Regions from separate parts of the Homo sapiens genome. Here region 1 is linked to region 2. The links come from fine-mapping of genetic effects on gene expression. A gene starts in region 2. The other region holds a variant in brackets. All regions are shown on one strand. Distances are between the middles of the regions. Region 1 holds the start of LOC105377989 (a long non-coding RNA gene). Region 2 holds the start of RNF146 (ring finger protein 146).

Region 1 (10,707 bases), 58 kb before region 2:
AAGGTCCTATTTATCACTAAGTTCACCCTTACTGATCTTTTTCCCATAGTAAAAAAAAAATGATTATGACTCACTTTATGAACACACCAAATGCTACAGGAAAATAGATTTTAGTTTTATCCAAACCAGCAGTGAGAATAATTTATGATTCCAAAAAAGACATAGACATGCAGAGTCAATTTAGGAAAGTGAGTCAGTTTCATGCAAATAAGTTCTAGCTTTCTTGATTGCCAGTCTCCTTTTAATGTTGGAATTTTAGGGGGGGAAATGAATTATTGTGGTAAACCAACAATTCCACTTGTTAACTATGGAATATTTAAAGGATAGCTTAATATGTACATGTGAAAGGGTCAAGAGAATAGAGTTTTATTTGAATATCCAGATGATCCAATTAAATCCAAAATGGTATTATTTCTAGAACAGAAGAGACCATTAGAATGTGCTGTTCTAGTATCTCTAGAATTCTCAAATTTATTATGAGAATTATCCTTTCCACAATTGTCAAAATAGATTGTTTGGCCATAAACATCCTTGCAAGCCTAAGCAATTTGAAATTCAGGGCCTATATCAGTTTCCTTGCCTCCACCCCTTTCACCCCCAAAAGAAACCAGTCAATTAGATAATGGATAAATTAACACTATATTGACAAGCAAAGAATAATTAGAAATTAATAAGCATAAAGAGAAATGACTGTGTAAAAAAATCACTTGTTTCAGGTTTAATGTAGTCACTTTGGGACAGGAATATAAAACATGAAACATGAAAATAGTCAGCAGATGCCCTTTCCATCCATTAATAAAGTATCTTTTAAATAAATAATCAATCAACCTATAGATTCTGCCATTAGGAAATTAGCAACAGTGCTTTGCTGTACCAGTAGAGCTATCAGATTAGACAATTTTCATATGTATAGGTGACATAACATTCTCCTAAAATTTTCTATCAGGTTTCTAGATGGAGGTTAAAAGCCTTGTATGATTTTGTAATAATTGATATACCAAGCCTGGCATCCACAATAAATATTGATGTTTTCCATTCTGTAAAAATGATATAAAACATATTAGTGCTTTTATAGTTATGCAACTTTGTATGTTTTGATACCAAAAAAGATCCAGAAAATGTGAAAATACAGATAGTTATCTAAGTATAGCTTCACCGAGATTGGGTGATTTAATTATCAATTTGAAGGAAAACTCTTTTATCTGTAACAATGATCATAACTGAACTACTGAACTGGCCAGCAAAATTAATGTCTTGATCTGCCACTCAAGCAGTATTTAGTCATTATTTTCAAATGACTAAAATTAAATAAAATAAACTATACCTTTGAGAATCATTTTAACTGAAGTAGCCAGTTATAAGGGCTAGCCACAGGCAGTGTTTACAAAATGTCTCTTTAAGAGGTGTAAGATTATTTCAGATCCACAAAGAAAAAGCAGCAGATGGTCCTGCTTTTCCCTTGTATCACTTGAAACATACAAGACTTAAATATTAAGTTAAAAGTGTATTGAGAATACTTCAGAAAACAAATCTATGCCCAAATCACTCCTTAAAGCATGGAAAGAAAAATAATGCTAAAGTGGAGGAAAATAATTAAAAGTGGAATTCCCTATATATTCTAATTTGCAAGATGAAGCTTCACTCTTCCTGCAAAATACTACATTATGGGTATGAAGACGCCACACCAGTCCTAACCAAAACATGTCTCAGCCCTTCTCCAGCCTTCACCAAATATCACATTGCCAGCTTCTCTTTTGTCATGTCCTTGCACTTCCACAAATTGGATTTCCCATCAGAGTGTTAGTACACTCTGATGAACTCAACAAAGCAGAAGTAAGAAAAAACAACTTTAAAAATGTTGTTTTTATATTACAAAGCAATGTTTCAAATAAATGTTATTCAATATTACTGAAATGGCATTGAAATAGTCATAATGAGAAAAGTGAGAACTTGGTTGAACTTTCTTATACTGGTTTTACAATTTAATTCTGTGTTAGTTTGCAATACATTAAAAAAAGGAACGACAGAATCTTTCAAAATCCTTGGTCCAGTCCTACTGCACAAACACAAGCACCTACTGCCTCCCTTCTCTCCCGTTAGTCAATCCTAAGCCTTGCCTGAGAAATATCAGTGATTCTGTCAAATACTACAGACTGCTCTCTATCCTGAGTGCCTTGAGAAGGTCTCCAGCTATTCCAGTGTCACCTTTGACAGGAGGCAAAGGTGGTAAGCAAAGGTGTCAAGGCCCTGTCATCCATTCTGCCTTGTGTTTCTTTCATTTCCTGTACAGGGTAACTGCTCAGAAAAACTCAACTATTTCTCACAGGACAAATCATATAAAACCTTACAGGATTAAAAAAAGAGAGAGAGAAGCGCTTGTAATGAAAAGAAACGAAAGAAATAATAAGAGAACACACAAGAGGAAACCAGTCACACCCATTCTCTCTAGTGCTATGTAGCTTAACCCACACCCAAAGTAAACTGCCTTCACTTCAAGAAGCTGTCTCTCTGTAAATAAACTGACCAATGTATCTTTAAGACATAAACATCTTGGACTGCCATAATAAACATTGCAAAATAAATACAAAATAACATCTGGAGGCAAAGCTTTGCTAGGAGTGGGGTGAGAGGGAGTGCTAGCTTTTCTTAGCACCATTAATAAAGTATTAATTTCATTTTCTTTTAGTTTGGAAAATGCTTTCCATTATTAACCAAAAACAAATCAAAGACTTACTGATTTTACTTTAAAATCCAAAGAATGGAATACTGTCTGTCCATAATGGCTTTTTGCAAGTTGGGCTTATCTTCTTAGTTATATTTTAATTCCCTTGTTTTCTACTGTTTGAAACTAGCACTCAGTCACCAAGCAGTTAATTTAGATATGAAAATGGTTTATATTTAGGTCTAATTATTACTGTCCTGTTACATAAAAATCTTCTTTCTGTCTTGGGAAACCAATTTCTCCAATATAATGTACCAGAAAAACACAATACTTCCATTGTAAGAGTATATTATAATGATTATGACATTCAACCATTGTTTCTCATTGCAATGGCAGAGACCATGTTTCATGCACTTCCTATCAGCATCCGACTTATGTGTAGTTATCCCATTCAATTAACATTTATCATCGGCAAACAGCAACTGGTCCAGCTCTCTACCTGTACAAAATAATTACATCAAATGCTTGAGTTGCTCCTAGTAAATTTTACTATAATATTATTATGTAGATAATTGCCCTAGGAATTACTTCTCTTATTTTGTGTAATGCTCTGGTAAGATTTTTTGTAGGTGACATAGAAAGCATTGTATTCCAATGCCAAGAAAAAAAAAAAACTCATTAGAAATATATGTAACTTACAGCCAGGCGCCATGGCTCACGCCTGTAATCCCAGCACTTTGGGAGGCCGAGGTGGGTGGATCGATCACCCGAGTACAGGAGTTCCAGACCAGCCTGGCCAACACGGTGAAACCCCAACTCTACTAAAAATACAAAAAATTAGCTGAGCATGGTGGCAGGCACCTGTAGGCCCAGCTAATTGGGAGGCTGAGGCAGGAGAATCACTTGAACCCAGGAGGTGGAGGTTGAAGTGAGTCGAGATTATGCCATTGCACTCCAGCCTGGGAGACAAGAGCAAAACTCTGTCTCAAAAAAAAAAAAAAGAAAAGAAATATATGTAACTTATGAGTAAATTATAATACCTCCTAAAAACCATTATACCTAATTTACAATAACTACTACTAATAATGACAAAATAAATTATTTGAAATGTATATACCCTAAATTATTTCTTGTTCCCAATGTATAAATCTTTATTTTTATAAAATGAAATAAACTTGTTAACTATCAGGGGAACAGTAAATGCCTTCCATTTAGTCAAATAAATATGTAAGGATATTTAATCTCATATAAGTGTTTTTTAAAAGTATACTTGTCTCTCTTTCCATAGGAAGTAATGTCTGGCAGAGGAAAACTGCTGAGCTATGTCTGAGATAGTTTCATCTGCTCACAGGCTGCTCCTGATGGCACATATTTATTGTGTTTCTCACATGGCCTAAACTATACCAGCAAAATGAGGAATTCAGTTTTCCTTTTAAAAAATTTTCCTTTTGAAAATAACAGGCATTTTACTAAACATTCCTTTTTTTCTTATTTTGATTAGCCAAAATGCCAGTTGCAGGCAGGCTACATAAAGGATATTCTAAATTCCAGACCCTCTTTCATCAGATATTGCAAAGGCTGAAAGTAAGATCAAATTTACCCAAGCCACAAGTTGTAATAAATTTAAAAGAATCATCTTTGGCTTCCATTATTAGTCATTTCCTCTCTTTCAACAAACAATAATTCAACAAATAAAAATTTTAAAAGTTCTGTCTATTTTAGGCTTTGCAGATAGAAAGACTTGCATTTAAATCTCTTTATTATTGACCGTGCACTCTTGGAAAAGTAATTTATTTGATTCTCCATATATTCATATATAAAATAAATATAATATTTTTACAGACTGTATAGAGTTGTGAAGATTAAAGGAAACTATGTGGCATGCCAAGTATGTACTGGGTTCCCAGTAAATTGCTACTAATTAAAATGTATGTGCTTTGCTTAAAATAGAATTTCCAAGTCACTCTGAAACAGAAATATCGATATTTCTGTTATATATAAATATATATAAATACAATCATGTAAACACACATACATACACATATATTTCCTTCAATAATCAATCTTTCTATAATATTTAATTTAATCAATAGGTATTTACAGTATATCTACTGTTCACCAGGCAACATGCTTGATACAGATAATACAAATCCACAAAATAAAATTCTTGTCTTTGAATCTTCCTACTAGGAGAAACACATAAGATACCCAAATGCTATGAGGGTATTTTACCTAAGTCTGTGCCTCCTGGTGCGGAGGTCAAGAGGAATGAGCCCCTAACTCAGGCTTGGATGCAGGAGCAGGAGAGGATGAGTGTTTAGTAACGTGAGCTAATTCCTCAATCATGAGTACTTCTTTGGCAGTGAAACAAAATAGGAAATGAATGTCGGGTTGGGTATCACAGGCCATGAGAAAAGCCTGGCATAAATGAGAATATGCAGTTTGGGGAATTACAAGTAGTTTCTGTGTTCTCTGGCAAGAGATTTG[G/C]GAAGTGTGAACAGGAAACAGATGATAAATGGCCTTATATGTTATGGGAAAGAGTCTATACTTTATCTTGAAAACAGTGATGAGTCTGTTAAGGTTTTTATGAGGAGCAATGAAATAATTCTATTTGTCTTAAAAGTTGCCTTTGGTGACAATGAAAAGATGGATTTTTAAGAATGAAGAACACTCGGATGAGTAACAGTTTTAAGTATAGGAGTATAAAATTGTATAGTCAACTTCAAAATAAAAAGAACCTGAATTAATGCAGAAAAAGATGAAGGAGAGGAGGGAATAGACACCAGAGATCATTTGAAGGTAGAAGCCATGAAACATGTAACCAATAGCAAGAAGCAGGGGAGCAAAGTGAGTCCCATGTCTCACTCGGTAAGCAGTGTCATTAATCAGAGAATCACCCACAGCTGAGAGTGGGATTGTTTATTTGCTTTGTTGAGATTGAGGTGTGTGACAGATATTCAATTGAGATAATCTCCTAGGAGTCTGGAATATTATAGGTCTGTCCCTGGGCTAAACTGTATGAAAGGTAGAGATATTGATTTAGAAGTAATTATCTAATAAATAAATCACAGGGCATATGTGAGTGAGCCTAAGGAGAATTCAGTGAAAGAGAAGAAAAAAGATTGAATACAATTAGCAATATTTAAAGAGTGAGTAGAGAAACAGGGAGTTATGAAGGGAACTGAGAAAGATGGACTCAGAGGTAAACAGGTCAAGAATAAAGAAAGCAACATTATAGAAACATTATGGGGCACGATTATATCAAATATTGCAACAAAATCAATCAATCTGAAGACTGGCAGGTGTCCCCAGGACTTGCCAATATGGTGTTCTTTTAGAACTTATTTTAACAAAGTTCTGAGGACAGAATCCAGGTCTCAGTGAGCCAAGAAAGAATGAGAGGTAGGGAATTGAAGATGCAGAATGTAGACAACTCAATAGAGAAGGCTTCTATCTGTGGGTAAGAAGGAAACTCAAGGTACAGCCTACAGAGAGTCAACATATGTTTTATTTGGGTCTGCTTTATGAAGAAATTAGACTACAGCCATTAACCTACTGAGGCAAAGGAGAAAAAAGAGTAAATGTTCTAATTTAACAAAGAGTAGAACTATCCACACCTGTGATAAAACTAAAATTCCACTATAAATATTAAGCGTGAGGGATAAATGTCAATTTTAACAGAATTTCCATTCAAACTTGTTTTCCCCAATACATCTTCCCAACTTTCTCTCTTGACTTCCCATATCACTTCATAATTTTCAGTAAGATATTTTTGCCTTCACCTTTATTTCTCTGTATCCTTTTCTATATAAATGCATTTGGTAATGCTACTTCATCTTAACTGATTTTTTTTTTCATGTAAAATCAATCTTGGTTGCTGCCCTCCTTAACACCTAAGTCAAATTTCTCAACTTTTAGGCAATATTGGCTATTCAACTCTGTGCCCCAAACTCGTGTATACTATATTACTTTCTACTTTTTGTACATTATTTTTTAAATAAATTACAAATAAAATAAAAATAGATGTCAGAATCTTTTTAAAATGTAAAATGCTGTAAAATATCAAGTCTGATAATATTATTAATATCAATTTAAGGATGCCTTATCTCCCCCTTGATCAAATTGTCAGCCAATATTTGAATCATGAATATAAATCACTGACAAGAAAAAAAAATAGCTCAGGTTGACGTCACTGCCTAGTAGCAAAATTTCCCTTAAAAAATTTAAACCTGTTAATTATATTTTATTTAATTAAATACATATATTTATTTCCATATTTGCATTTCCTTTTTCAAACACATGCAGCAGCAGTCTACTATATGCAATCCTGTTTAATGCAACCAGTTATTTTTGTAACAGTTTATAATTCTTTCACATATTGGCATCATTTCAGCTATTCAATTAAAAATGAGATTTTTTTATTAATGTATTCAGTTGCTCATATAAAGCATCTTGTGCTTAGCATATTAAGCAAAAATAGGGCTATATTGTTTCCATTAACTTACTATTTAATCCTTAAAAATAGAAACCTAATGTAATGGTTACAGTATGGATCCAATACTAAATATAGAATTCTAGTTTTCTGTCCTATAGAAACTCAGATGATCTGTAAAAAAATCACACATCTTCACAACTTCTCCTAAGCCAATAAAAGAGAAATGCTTGCTTTCAAGTTAGATTCTAAATCATAAAATTTATTATATAAGGCCAGAAAATAAAGCAATTATCTTACATGTATTGTAAATACTTCTGAAAAAAATCAATTATGTTTCAGCACCCCTCCAAAACTGCTCATTTAAAAAAATTTATTTTCAAAACATATTTCCTTTTTGCCTAAATAACAGGGCTTGCCCTGAGAAACAATTGTGGATTTTGAAGACTGCACCAAAGTTGTGTGTTGGTATCTGATAAAATTCTAAAAATAATGTTAAACTATTGATAAGAAGCTAGAATACCGGCCTTTACCATCAGAGAAAACTACAGGACACATGGGATCACAACCCCTCTCAGGTATCATGCTCTCTGCCTTACTAATCCCATTTTTCTGTTGTGGTTTAGTTTGTTTGCTTTTTAGAGTTTTTAAAGTAATAGATTAGGGAAGTTTTACAGAATGTGTATTGAATTAAATAACAGATTTGACAGAACTTCCCTGAATATATTTATGTATAAGATTTAGAGAAGCAGCTACAATTAGATGGCTCCATATCTGATTGAACAACCCTATGTAAGAAGTATTGATAAAATTATCTATGTCAATCTCTTTGTCCTTCATCTTGCCCTGTTAGCCCCATCTCAATAGCTTAGACGAAGCTAAAGAAAGCATGCCTACTTGAATTTGAAAAAAAAAAAAAAATAGGACAGTGCTGACAGAAATAACTGATACTTTGGAGGAGAAAGTCGAAACTGTAAAATAGCAGGTGTGATGATAGGCTGGGCCAAAATGATAAAATCAGTAAGAAAAGAAAAAATAGGCTTACGTTAAAATACAACAAAACACACAATACAAGGAAATGAATGGCAGTTGGCACGGAAAAAGTCAACCCTCAGAGGTTTTATTGGACCACAAGCTTACTAGGAGCTAAGAAGCTGATAACGGTGCCTAAAGGAGCTAAGGAAGCAATGGTGCTGTGGACAGCCCGCCATTCCCAGAAGCTGCTGCTACTCCCGCCCCCAACCCCCAAAGTCAGGTCCTGGGAAAAAGCTATTCTGAGTGTCTGCATTCTTGGGCTAGAATTTCTTCAAAGGCACCATAATAAAATATCCATACCACTGAGCTGGAGCCTTGAAAAGTGGCCATTCATTCATGTCCTCAAACCACAGCATGTTCAAATTCACCCATGAGCTCTATCAGGAAGTGTAACTCCAGGGAATTCTAGCACATGAGGTGGGATTTTTCAAGGCCACCCCCGTTTTTAAGGGAATTATTCAAATATCCACTAAATGAAAGAAATGGACAGCTCAATTTAGAAGAGCTGTATGTTGGAGTCTAGGTATGGATAGAGAGATGGATGTGAGAAGTGGCTAGATCAGACTGGAAGCAGCACAAAATAAATAGGAAAAGCATAGAATTTGGGGAGTAGGGGATGACCAAGAATGAGAAGGATGTACATGAAGGAAGGAGCCAGAAGAATGGGACTTTGGCTGGGCGCGGTGGCTCACGCCTGTAATCCCAGAACTTTGGGAGGCCGAGGTGGGCGGATCACTAGGTCAGGAGATTGAGACCATCCTGGCCAACACTGGAAAACCCCATCTCTACTAAAACACAAACAAAAATTAGCCGGGCGTAGTGATGCGCGCCTGTAGTCCCAGCTACTTGGGACGCTGAGGCAGGGGAATCGCTTGAACCCGGGAGGCAGAGATTGCAGTGAGCCGAGATCGTGACACTGCACTCCAGCCTGGCCACACGGCCAGACTCCGCGTCAAAAAAAAAAAGAACGGGACTTCATGTTACTGTTTCTAAACCTTAACTTCTCTTAAAGTTCAGAACATCTGGCAAAATCATGCTTTACACTTACTGTACCATTGCCACTTTTTCACTTCTACCACTCCTGACAGATTCATCAAAGATTTGAGCAGATCAATCCACTTTCATTCCTATTTCTACTAATCTTGGACAACTGCCACTTCTGTGTGGACAGTATATTCAACACTCCAACCTTATTGTTTATATATCTCTGTCTGGATACCCTAGTCCATATCATATCCCAAATCATCTAGCTCCAGATTTCTAATTTCTTGATTACCACACTGTGTCCACAATCTCATGTGTTTTCTGCTTCCTCAACTTTTTGGTCCACTGATAATATTCTTCAATCTCATTAAGGACTCTAGTCCTTCACCCTTCCGATTTTACTTAATCTCTCATCCTCCACCTGGCGTCACTAAATTTTTCAGCTGGGCTTCATTTTCCTCACTTGTAAATGGGAGTAGGAATACCCACCTTACATATTTGATGTGAGAATTAGAGATAAATTATGTAAAACATAACCTTGTTCCATGCTAAAAGTAGGCATTAAGTGATGGTTACCAACCTTAATCCCCATAAAGCTCATGACATTTTACTTAGAGATCTCTCTTGCCATTACCATCAGTTCCCTTGCCTTTTGTCCTTCTTCTGCACCTAATTAGCAAAACTCAAACCCTGGATCAACCAATCACTCCCTTTCCAGTCACATATCTGGCTGCCAAGCACTGCTAAAAACAAATTCCACAACCACATGGATTGATGCCACTACAAATTTATGGTCTCCCACATCAGTTGGGCTATTAACACTACACAGTAAAACTTCTAACTATCCCTAATCCACTTCCTCTGTCATTCACCACAATAATATTTTCAAACTTTCACTAACCTGATTTTCTCCATCATTCTCAGCAAATGAACTCTGCTTTAGAGAGAAAATACAGATCATCTTGCAAGAACGTTCTCCACTTCCTTTCTCTCCCCAAAACACAAACAAGTGTAAATATAGTCAGAGCCAGCCTTACCTCTTCCCTTTCTATTTTAGCTAAATTGTTGTCCTACATTTCAAATGTTAAACCTACCATCTGTTCTTTGAATCACATCTTCTCATTTCTTTGGGAAGCTTACATTGCGTCTCTTCTCTTCTGTATTTCAACTTCTCTTTTTCTTTCAGCATCTCCTATTTTGTCGCTCTGTTTCCTTCTAGTGTACACCTTAGTTTTTCGTTCACCTTACAACCATGTTTCTCCAAAGAGCAGTATGTACTTACCTCCATGACTCCATTTTTTAGGACTGTGTCAACCACCATATCTGTGTTTTTCTATCTCTATTACAGTAAATTCAATCTTGCAAATGTCTTTAATTACTAAAAACAACAAACATGTTTTAGTCCTTACCTTACATGACCTTTCTTCTACTCATGATGTTGTTTATCATCTTTATTGAGATTCTTTCCTCCTATGACTGTTAAGCCACCATTTACTCTTGATTTTCCTCTTCTTTCTTTTTTTTGGGCAGGGGGAGGGTCACGGGGGATGAAATTTCCCTCTTGTTGCTCAGACTGGAGTGCAATGGCACCATC
Region 2 (10,707 bases):
AAATATATATATATAGACTCTATAAAACAGAAAAAGAAAATAATTTATCAGTTTTTGCCAAAAGACAATAGAAGTTATGAAATTATAGGTATTTATTCTTATGCTTTCTAGTAGACTGAATGAGAGGCTCTGGCGGAACTAGCTCAGAATTTGAGACAGGTCAAATAATGTAATTGTAATAGCTAAGGTTTTTCAACCTTGGCCAAGTACTTTATCTTAAATTTCATTATCAAATCTCTGAATAGAGGTGATAATTTACCCGTTTTATGGCTACATATAAAAAAATTGACATTTGGATACAGTAAGTAGCATGCCCGAATTAGTTTATGGCGCTCCTGATCCTAGGACTCATCGTGTCTTTACTGAACCTTTACTGATGCATGTCCATATTCCCCTCAGCTGGTCTCTCTCTCTTCACCGTGGTTCTACTCTGGGCTACCTGTGAACACTGGTAACCTCAATGAGTTGCAGTTGTCTCATAGAACAATGATGAAAAGATATTCGTGGACCTGGATCATTATGGTGAAAAAAATGGTTTGTTAAGAGCTTAGAAAATAATAGGCAATCAATTATTCTAGTTCTTTCCATATTTCAGAATATATATCACCTTGAGCAATATAATAAATCATTTTTCAAACTTTTTGAACCACATATTTGATGCCCAGTCTCACAATGGCATTTCTATGTTCTGCTTTATATCTAATGGAGCTGGAAAAAGTTGTTTTTGAGAATCCTTTGACAGATGGTTTCTTGTTTAGTTTTGTCAATTGAAGGCAATCACATGGAAAAAGTAAGTGGAAAGGAGAAGGTGATTTCTTTCCTATTCGTTTCTGGTTCTGACATTGGAGTGGTAGGTGACTGCTTATGGCTGTGAGTTCCTGGACTTCTGCAGGCTCAGTGTGCATATGGGACCCTGACTTCCTATTATAGCAGTTCATAAAAAGTGCTCTAGCAGCCTCCAGGAGCTCCCAGAACACCCTTTGCTCCTCCAAACTTAGATGAGCCAGTGACTTTCTGCAGTTACTGATTTCAAGGTATCTTCATCTTTCTTTTTTGGTTCCTCCAGTTTTCTAACACTTTCACCACCATTTCACTACATTAGAGTCTCTGTCTGAAATACTTAAGGTGGTTTTTGTTTTCCAAAGAGAATCTTGCTTGACAAACTTCTGTGAAAATACTTCAAACTTTTAGGTTATAATTATATTAAACTGATACAGGAAAATGTGACATTGCAAAACATAGTTGCTGCCTTGATGACCTTAAGCAATTTCCTTTATGTGATGGAGTACATTGTTTAAGGGACTATTTTGTTAAAATAATAAGCTAGCTTAAAAAACCTCCACTGTTAAAATACAGCATTTATTCTTATCTTTTAATACTATGGTCAATGAAAGGTTATGTCATTTAATGAAACAAGCATGGACTTTGGAGACATCAGAGCTACTACTGTCAATATAAGACATCTAAAAATTAATAAATACATATTATATACATACAACCAGGTTAGGAAATAAATGCATCGTTGACTTTATAGTCAAACTATAAAGTTTAACTCAGTGACTCTTGGGGCTATTTTCTAGCCATACATTATCCTAATTCAGTTGTAATGTCTGTGGGCAACGCAGGAACATTAAGAACCATTAGAAGAGAAAGCATTGATAATCACAGTAGGTAAAAGAAAAACACAAGCTAAACTGGCTAGTGTACTATTATTTGCAAAGGAGTTCTACTAGAAAATAATATACTGTTTGATTACTGTAAGTAGAACATCAAATGATAGGACAGAAACCAACCTATGTATCAGCTCTGGAAACAAAGTTTTTAATTAAAATAAACAAAGTTTGCTTTCCAAAGCTTCCTCTTGGTTTGATTTCCATTCATCTGCTAGCTATAATGACTGGTACATTCCTGAATCTGGTTTGTTCTGTTTCCAGGCATATGAGAAAGTTGTGTCCACAGCTATCAGATGGTTGCCGGCATGTGAAAAGGGAAGAAATTTAACTTAGAGTTGGTAAGCAAAATAGCCCCAGACAAGCATTCTTATTTGGTCTCAGGACCCTTTGACAGTGCTAATTTATAGAAGACCCCAAAAAACTTTTATGAGCTAATCAATATTTACCAAATTAAAAGTTGAAATTGAGAATGGTTTACAATATATACTAATTCATTTAAAAATGACTCATTGTATTAACATACTTTATTAAAAAAAAAAACACTACATTTTCCAAAACAAAGCTAACTGAATGAAAGAAGAGTGCAGTTTTACTTTTTTTTTTTTTTTACATCGTTTTAATGACTGGTTTAATAGATATAGTCAAATTCTCATATCTGCTTCTATAATCAATCTATTGCTACATCACATACCATGTAGCTTCTGGAAAACTCCACTGTACATTTGAGAGTGCAAGTAAACAAAGCAACTAGAGTCTTAGTATTATTATAAGAACAATTTTCCCTCAGACACTCTGCAAGAGTCAAAGGACCCCTATGGGTCACTAGATAACACTTGGAACACCGCCGCCCTAAACTAGCCACGAGTGGTTTCAACGTACATTCTATTGTAACACATCATTTTCTCATGCATTTTCATGGATGTCTTCAGATATTAAGTAAACAAAAAAAAATGCTTTGATCCTTAAGTAAAACAAATAACATTGGACAATTTTTGAGTGTTGGAAGGATAAATGGAGAAGAGTAGGTGCCTGGAGATGTGTGGTATTCAGCAAAGTATTTTGTAAGTTGTGGGAAATAGACAATAAGCTATAAGCAAACAGGCAACTGGGTAATTCCTAGCAGTCAGCTGCAACTTCTTTACCTTTGATTCAATGAAGCAAAATGGAATCCCAGTGACAGTAACATTATTACAGAAATACATTGAAACTGTTAGGCTCTGATTTATTTAAGCAAATAATTTGAAGTTTTGGTACTTAAAATTACTGGAAACCAGTTACTCTTAATTACTGGAAACCAGCACTCTGACAATGTTGAGAGGTGCTGTCCTGTGTTATTCAAAGATATAAACTTCTATCTTTCTTTCAAGTGGCTGATGGAGGTAGGGTGTATAGTATTCCATGCATTCAATTCTGCTTTTCATATGCAACTACTGAAAAATGAGAAGTTCACTTTTATTCATATATATATACAAATGGGGATATATTCATATATATATATAAATGGAGATATATATATATTCATATATATATATAAATGGGGATATATATACACACTCACATACACAAATGTGGTTTTTGGGGTTTTTTTGAGACGGAGTCTTGCTCTGTTGCAGTGCAGGCTGGAGTGCAGTGACACGATCTCGGGCAACTTCCGCCTCCCAGGTTCAAGCGATTCTCCTGCCTCAGCCTCCCGAGTAGCTGGGATTACAGGCGCGTGCCACCATGCCCAGCTAATTTTTTTGTGTTTTTAGTAGAGACAGGGTTTCACTGTGTTAGCCACGGTGGTCTTGATCTACTGACCTCGTGATCCGCCCACTTCGGCCTCCTAAAGTCCTGGGATTACAGGCGTGAGCTACTGCCCGGCCATGTGTGTATTCATTCATTCATTCATTCATTTACTCATTCATGTAACACATATTTACAGAGAACCTCTTTAAGTGTGTCAGGCACTATTCCTGGCAGTTGAGATACAAAACAGAACACACATTCCTGGCCTCCTGTGTCTTGCGTCCTAATGTGATGAGAAATATGATGAAGATTAGTAAGTAAAATAAATTATCCATTACACTGTGATAAGTATTAAAAAGTAAAGGAGGAAATATGAAATATTGGGAATGGAAACATCATGACTTAAAATATGCTGACAAGTAGAGGGACTGACTGAAGAGTTGGACATCTGAGCACATATGGAGGGAGCATGATGGGGAAGAGTGTTCTAAGCAGAGGAAACCACAACTGCAAAGACTATGAGGTTGGCAGCTTGTGGAGAGCTTTCTGGGAATACAAAGCTGGGTAAACAGTCTGTGGGGTCAAAGAGGTAATGAGGGGAGGATTTTAAAGCCATCGTTAGGACTTTGGTTTTTACTTGTGTTGGGAAGCCACAGGAGACTTTGAGCAAAGGAGTGGTACGATCTCACTTCTTTTTAAGTAGATTTATTTAGGATTCTGTATTAAGGATAGAGTCAAAAGACTAGTTCCTGGTCTACCGTAACACTATAATCCAAACAAGAGATGATGCAGATTGTAGCGGAGGTGGTAAGTAGTTGGATATACTTTGAAGGAAGAGCCAACAGGTTATATGCCAAATGCATATAAGACATAAAAGAGAGGAGTTAAAGGTGGGTTTGAACAAGGAAAGATGCAACCATTTACTGAAATACAAAGACCTTGGGTATGAGTGAGAAGGGGTTGAACTAGCTGACATCTTACAGTCTGTGCCTGGATTCAAATCTCAGCTGTGTGTGTCTCTCTCTCTGTAAAATGGGAATAATAATAGTGCCTACCTCATAGTTTATTATGAGAATTAAGTGGGTATATATGAATAAAGCACTTAGAGCAACACCTGGCACATTGTTAGTTAATATTAGCATTACCTCTTCAAGCTGGAATCTTCGAGTACATATCAAATTTTAGCTATTCTCTGTTCATGGGCTGTGTAGGATAGAGGGACAAAACTGAGTGGCTAATAAGAAGATAAAGATAGAAAACTAAGCTTAAAGTTAAAGGATATACACTTCAATATTTCTACATGTATGGAACAGTATTGCATACACGCGCAAGCATCACTGAACTAGATGCACCCTTCAAGAGATTGGGTTACATATTGATATATATGAATGAGAACCCTGAAATAAACTGATTTCAGAGGAATAACAGAAAACATATACATTTCTATACCTATAAGGACACTGAAAACTTCCAATCCTGAATCAAACAGTTAATGAAATCCCAAAATGCAACACTAATGCAAATGAGAAGACGCTGTCATAGAATGTTGAAATACATACTCTTCTAAAGATAAAAGGTCTGCTCTTCCACCCTCTTCATTTTCCTACAAATTAGGAAAATTTAATCAGTTCTGAAAAAGGAAATGTACATGCTAAAATGGTGAATTACTGCTAGAGTTCTGATGTTTAAAACCACAGGCTTGCGATCAAAATAACCTCTTTAATTTTAGATTATCATGCAGATTAATTTCTTCAGTTTCTCAGGCACTATTCTGTTTTTTTTAAAAAAAGGGTGGGGTTTCAAAAGAAAACTAATACTCATTTTTTCCCCGATTAAATTGCTCAACCATTAAAAAGGAGAACAAATTGGAAAGTCCTACAGTACTCTCTCCCCTCCGTCCCCCCCCTCCCCATTTTTTTTCTTGAAAGGGAACAAGCAGTACTTTTGCTAAGGGATCTTTAAGCCGAAACTCAGCTAGGCGCCCCAGAGCTTCCTCAGGATAGCAAAGCTGGATTTTTGAGCAGCACCACCTGCTGGTCCTACACACGTTTTACTTCCTCCACCCCAAATCTCTTTCTGTTGGAACTGCACTCTTTCAGAGCCTCTGGGCCCTAATACAAAGCAAGCACACTCTAAAGAAGCCAGAAGAATGCAAGCAGCGAAGTCGCCGCTCCCCACAGGCAAGAGAGTACCGGCAGACAGCGGCGCGAGACAGGGGCAGAACGATGAGGCGCCGGAGTTAGCTCGCCGGTGCGGGTGCGGGTGCGCGGCGCGTCGCGGCCCCTCCTCCGCGACGCGCCGGGTGGTCACGTGACGGCCGCGCGCGTTCCCGGCAGCTGCGGGCTCCGAGGCCAGAGAGAAAAGACTGCGAGGTGGCCGCAGCTGTGGCCGGAGAGGTGGGAGTCGGAGCGAGGCCCTCTCGGGGGAGCAGGGTGAACGCCGGCCACTCTAGGATCCTCACTCGGGGAGAGGAGGCATAGCTCGCGGTGTCACCTCCAGCCGCAACGTACTCCGGGTCGGCCTTGCGCTCGGGGCCTGAGAGGGGCGGCGGCGGGGTCAGGGGCCGGTACGTAGATGGACGCCCTTGGGCTGGCGCGGCCCCGGCTGTCCGCGCAGAGGCGGGATGGGACAGTTCAGCCCTTTCCGCCACCCCCGCCTTGGCTGCTGGGGCAGGCAAGACGACCGTGACAGCCCCTGCGCTGCCCGAGGGCGCCGCAGCCCCTGCCCTGGGTGACGGCCGGAGCTGGTCTCGGTCCGGGTGCGAGGGGCGGAGCAGCGGCCATTACTGCGCAGCCTCTTCCGCCTGAGCCCGCTTCGCTGCCTCGGGTGGCAGGCGGGTCCCTCTCCTCCCCTCTGGGCCGTGGTTTTAGGCCTTTACCCGGGGACCTTCTGGCCTCGAGGTGTAGGGGCGGCGATGGTTTTTCGGCGGTAGCCTGCTCCATGTTTTCCCGTGTGGGGTCAGACAGTTTGGGCCTTGGGTCAGATCGAAGCCAGGGCGTACAGTCTGCATTTTTGCCTTTTCCCGGAGTGTCTCTGGCTGCTGCTTTCTCTTCTCTCGCTCTTCCTCCTTTTTTTTCTCCTGCTCAGTGTCTCGGTCTTGCCTAAAACGAAGAGAGCAATCCCTGCACCTTGTCCTAGTGAAGCCCAGCGCTGCATATTCTTAGTTGTTTTTGACGGCTGTTGAAGCATCGGAACAATTAAGAGATCTCAGAATATCCCTTGAGCCTCCAAACCCTCTGCATCTTAAAAGCTGAGGCTGTTGCTTTGTTCTGATTGTTGGGTGGGGAGTTCTCTTCCTACCCTCCATCCCGTCTGAAGGAGTGTGGGTCTTCCATTGTTGTCGCTATTTATTTTGCTAAGGCTTCTAAAGAATGTAAAATTGTTTTAAGAGTGGAGACGGAACCGTCCTCTCCACAGGTAAAACCTACAGGACTGTAAGTTTACACACACATCCTGGCAACTAGAATCTTTTCTCGTTAATCATATTGGTATATGTTTTAATTTATTTTCTCTAAGTGCCATTTTAGTGAGCACTTATTTCTCAAGTTTTGAACATTTTGTTTAATATTTTTGTAATATCGAAACAGTGTAGAACTGAGGAGAGAAGAAAGCCCAAAGATGATAGGGTACGCTTTGTTCTTTGTATGATTGGCATTTCAGGTAGTGGGCACATCCCCCCCACCTCGTGTGTGTACTTTTCAAATGGGATGTGAACGTATAATATTGGCATTCAATCCAGTATATAATTATAGAATTTGGAAGACTTAGGACATTTTAGTCAGTGAATCTATATTTAGACTTTTCAAAGACATGGCACGTAAGGACACGTGGAGAAAATGTCCCACACAGATAACAGGATTTGTGATTTTGGCTTTGCTGTTTTATGATTAGCAAATATTGTTTGTATAGAGTGTCTGGGTGCCCTAAAAACACATGAAAATAGGTCAACTAAATCTCGTTTTAAAGAGAAAACCGGAAGAGTGAACACCACTCTAAAAATAGATTTTGGATGTGTTTGTTTTGGTGCCTTGTATATCTTAAAGTGGAGGATGTTGTTCAGCCCAATCTTTCATTTAGAATTTATGTCTCAAATGAGCCAGTGTATCATGTGGGCAGACTGGAAATACATTTAAATATTTTTTTTCTTCGCTGGTTGTTCAGAACTTGGTAGAATTATAATTATCAGGAAAACTCTCTCCAAATAGCTGGTCTTTTAGACAAGAGAAGAAAAAAGAAATAACTTCTTTTAAAAGGAGATGTCAACTTACAAAGTGTTTTGTTTCAGTCTCCACCAACCTAACTTGTCAGAGGAAAGGAACAGACTTTTTTTTTTAAAGGATCCAAAACGATATTTTGAGTCAAAAGAAGAAAAGGATATTAAATCTTTTGTTTTCACAATATCGATCTTTTTAAAGAATATTATTTTATATGTTAACCATATACTACCAGGAAACATCTAACAGCACTGACAGTTGGGAATTCGAATGCGTATTTTTCTCCCGTGTTAGTAATAGAAGGTACTGAGCCTTTTCCATTCTCTTGGTTGCCTTGTGCCTGAGGAATCTGAATTTGTGAAACAACATCTTTGTGGATATAGAAACTAATTTATGTAACACTTGGCTACAACCACCTGTGCTTACTTACGGACTATCTTTAGTTTTCATGGCGTGTTACCTTTTGGGTTAATTCAAATCCAAAATGTTGTTAACGGACTGCTAATTAAAGCATTTAGAACTTAGAATTACAGAATTATAGAGTAGGATGAGATAACAAAAGACTGGGGGTTATGACTTGACCAAGGTCACACAGATAATTTGCCAAAGAGCTTTCTTATTTATGAAATGGTTGCTGGCTAAGAAACATCTGTGTGTGATATGATTAAAAGACAATATTCGTTCACTTTTACATCTCATGTTTTGAAATAAAATGCAAAGCTCACTTTTTTGTTGTTTTGAGAAAAATTAAAGGGTTTAATGGGCTAGTATAAAGATTGTGAAGGCAGTAAGTAGACTGCCACATAGTAACGTCTTAAAGGGAAATAATTCTTTAAAGTATCAGACCCCATTTAGTTGAAATGAGTTTTGTCTGAAGTTTCCAAGTATGACCTATGCTTTTTCTTAGCTAATTTTTAGCAGGAGATGATGAGGGCTAAAAATTGAGACATTAGGGCATTTAGTTACATCTCTCAATTTGTGACTGGTTTATAAAAAATACTAAGATGTGTCTGCTAACTCACACCTGATTTATCTACTCCTTTTATGTATATATAATTTTTTTTGAGTTGTGTACCAAAAGTTGGAACATTTCAAGTATTTTTTCTTTCTGTCACTGAGTGATTTCATGTAGAACATTTACTGTTTTGTGTATTTTGAATAAATGGCAAAAATCTTATTAAACATTAGCTGTTAATAATTAGAAAAATACAGTAAGTCTTCAAATATTTATAATTGATATTTGTCTTTGTTTTTATATGTATTTATATTGATGTTATATGCTCATCTTTTTCTTTGATTAAAGATAATCGCTTGCTTGAATCTATTACCTGAAAAAAACTCTTGACTTTGATCTTGTGACTGACTTGAAAAGTGGGAGTATGAGTATTTTGAGTTGTTACAAATTATAAATGGTACAATATTACTTCATTTTTAGTTGTATTTATTTTTCACTTATTTGAATGGGTCAAGATTTAAATTCATTGATAATCCCTAAACCCCTTTGTGTATTTTTAAGTTTTACCTGTCACTGTTTTTTTCCTCCAGAATTGTTAGGGGCAAAGTATCTAATTTGGTTTTAGACTTTTTCTTTTTTTTATGTTACCTTCTTCATACATCATCATATTAAGTTTGGTGTAAAATTTACAGGTCATTCATTCCAGTAGGAATTATGTATGTTTGAGTTATTTATGTTTGGCAAATTAATTCTGGCCTGTAGTTGAAATCATACTGTTCTGTTTTACATCCCCCTATTGGTTAAAATAAAAGCATCCCTTCTCCTCCAACTTTAAAAAAACTTTGGTTTCAAATAATGTGGGAGTTTTCTGAGGGCTTCTTCACATGATTGTTATAAGTATTACATGTATGCCCTATTTTGTGCCCAGTTGAAATTATAGTTGACCATTGAACAAAGGTTTGAACCGTGTAGTTCCACTTATACAATACTTTTTTTTTCTGCCCCTGCCACCCCTGAGAGAGCAAAACCAATGTTTCTTTCTCGTCCTCCTGAAAAAGATGAAGGCCTTTATGATGATCCATTTCTACTTAATGAATGTAAACATATTTTTCTTCCTTATGATTTTTTTTTTTTTTGAGATGGAGTCTTGCTCTGTCATTAGGCTGGAGTGCAGTGGTGCGATCTTGGCTCACTGCAACCTCCACCTCCCAGATTCAAGAGATTCTCCTGCCTCAGCCTCCCAATTAGCTGGGACTACAGGTGTGCGCCACCATGCCCAGCTAATTTTTGTATTTTTAGTAGAGACGGGGTTTCACCATGTTGGCCAGGATGGTATTGATCTCTTGACCTCATGATCTTCCTGCCTCAGCTTCCCAAAGTGCTAAGATTACAGGCGTGAGCCACCGCACCTGGCCTCCTTACGATTTTTTAAATAATGTTTTCTTTTTTTTAGTTTATTGCAAGAAAACAATATATAATACAACATACAAAACATATATTAATCCACTGTTTATGTTATCAGTAAAGCTTCCAGGCAATAGTAGACTATTAGTAGTTAAGTTTTTGGAAACTCAAAAGTTTACATGGAATTTTGACTGCGCAGGGTGTAGACATTCTTAACTCCTCACATTGTTCAAGGGTCAACTGTATAAATTCTGAGAGTTAATAGGTGATGGGTCAGTTTGGCAGAATTGGGGCTACCTAAACCCATTAACTTTGATTATAACAGAATATGCAGTTTTCTTTTTTAATGTGTCTTCGGCAAAAGTCTAGGTAAATTAACATTGAATTCATTGTCTCTATTAAACAATTCCTGTAGTGACTTGTCAGTTTTGTATTTAACAAGATTAATATGCAAGACATTCTAGACCAGCATTGCCCAGTAAAGTAGCCACTAGCCACATGGAGTTATTGAGCACTTGACATGTATCCAGTCTGAATTAAGTTGTGCTGTAAGTGTAAAATACACACTGGATTTCAAAGAAGTATGCATACGCTTACCCAAGAACATAAAATATTACATTAACAATTTATATTGAAACATACTGAAGCAGTAATGTAGAAACGTTGGATTAAATAAAATATATTATTGAAATTAATTTTACCTGTTTCTTTCTATTATTATTTTTGTAGAAAT

Evidence for each region. PIP is the estimated chance that this variant, and not a neighbour inherited with it, causes the effect.
Region 1: its variant is the best candidate, but not a certain one, in a credible set for the expression of RNF146 in spleen (GTEx, PIP 0.86).

What each region holds. Positions count from the first base shown.
Region 1 is chr6:127,202,719-127,213,425 of GRCh38, forward strand. It overlaps LOC105377989 (a long non-coding RNA gene), which reads right to left and starts at 10,126. Exons shown (of 14, transcript XR_002956387.2): 1 at 10,015-10,126. The variant G/C (reference allele first, on the strand shown) is at 5,150.
Region 2 is chr6:127,261,129-127,271,835 of GRCh38, forward strand. It overlaps RNF146 (ring finger protein 146), which reads left to right and starts at 5,736. Exons shown (of 3, transcript NM_001242850.2): 1 at 5,736-5,797. RefSeq lists silencers at 5,695-5,794, 5,895-6,164 and an enhancer at 6,365-6,424.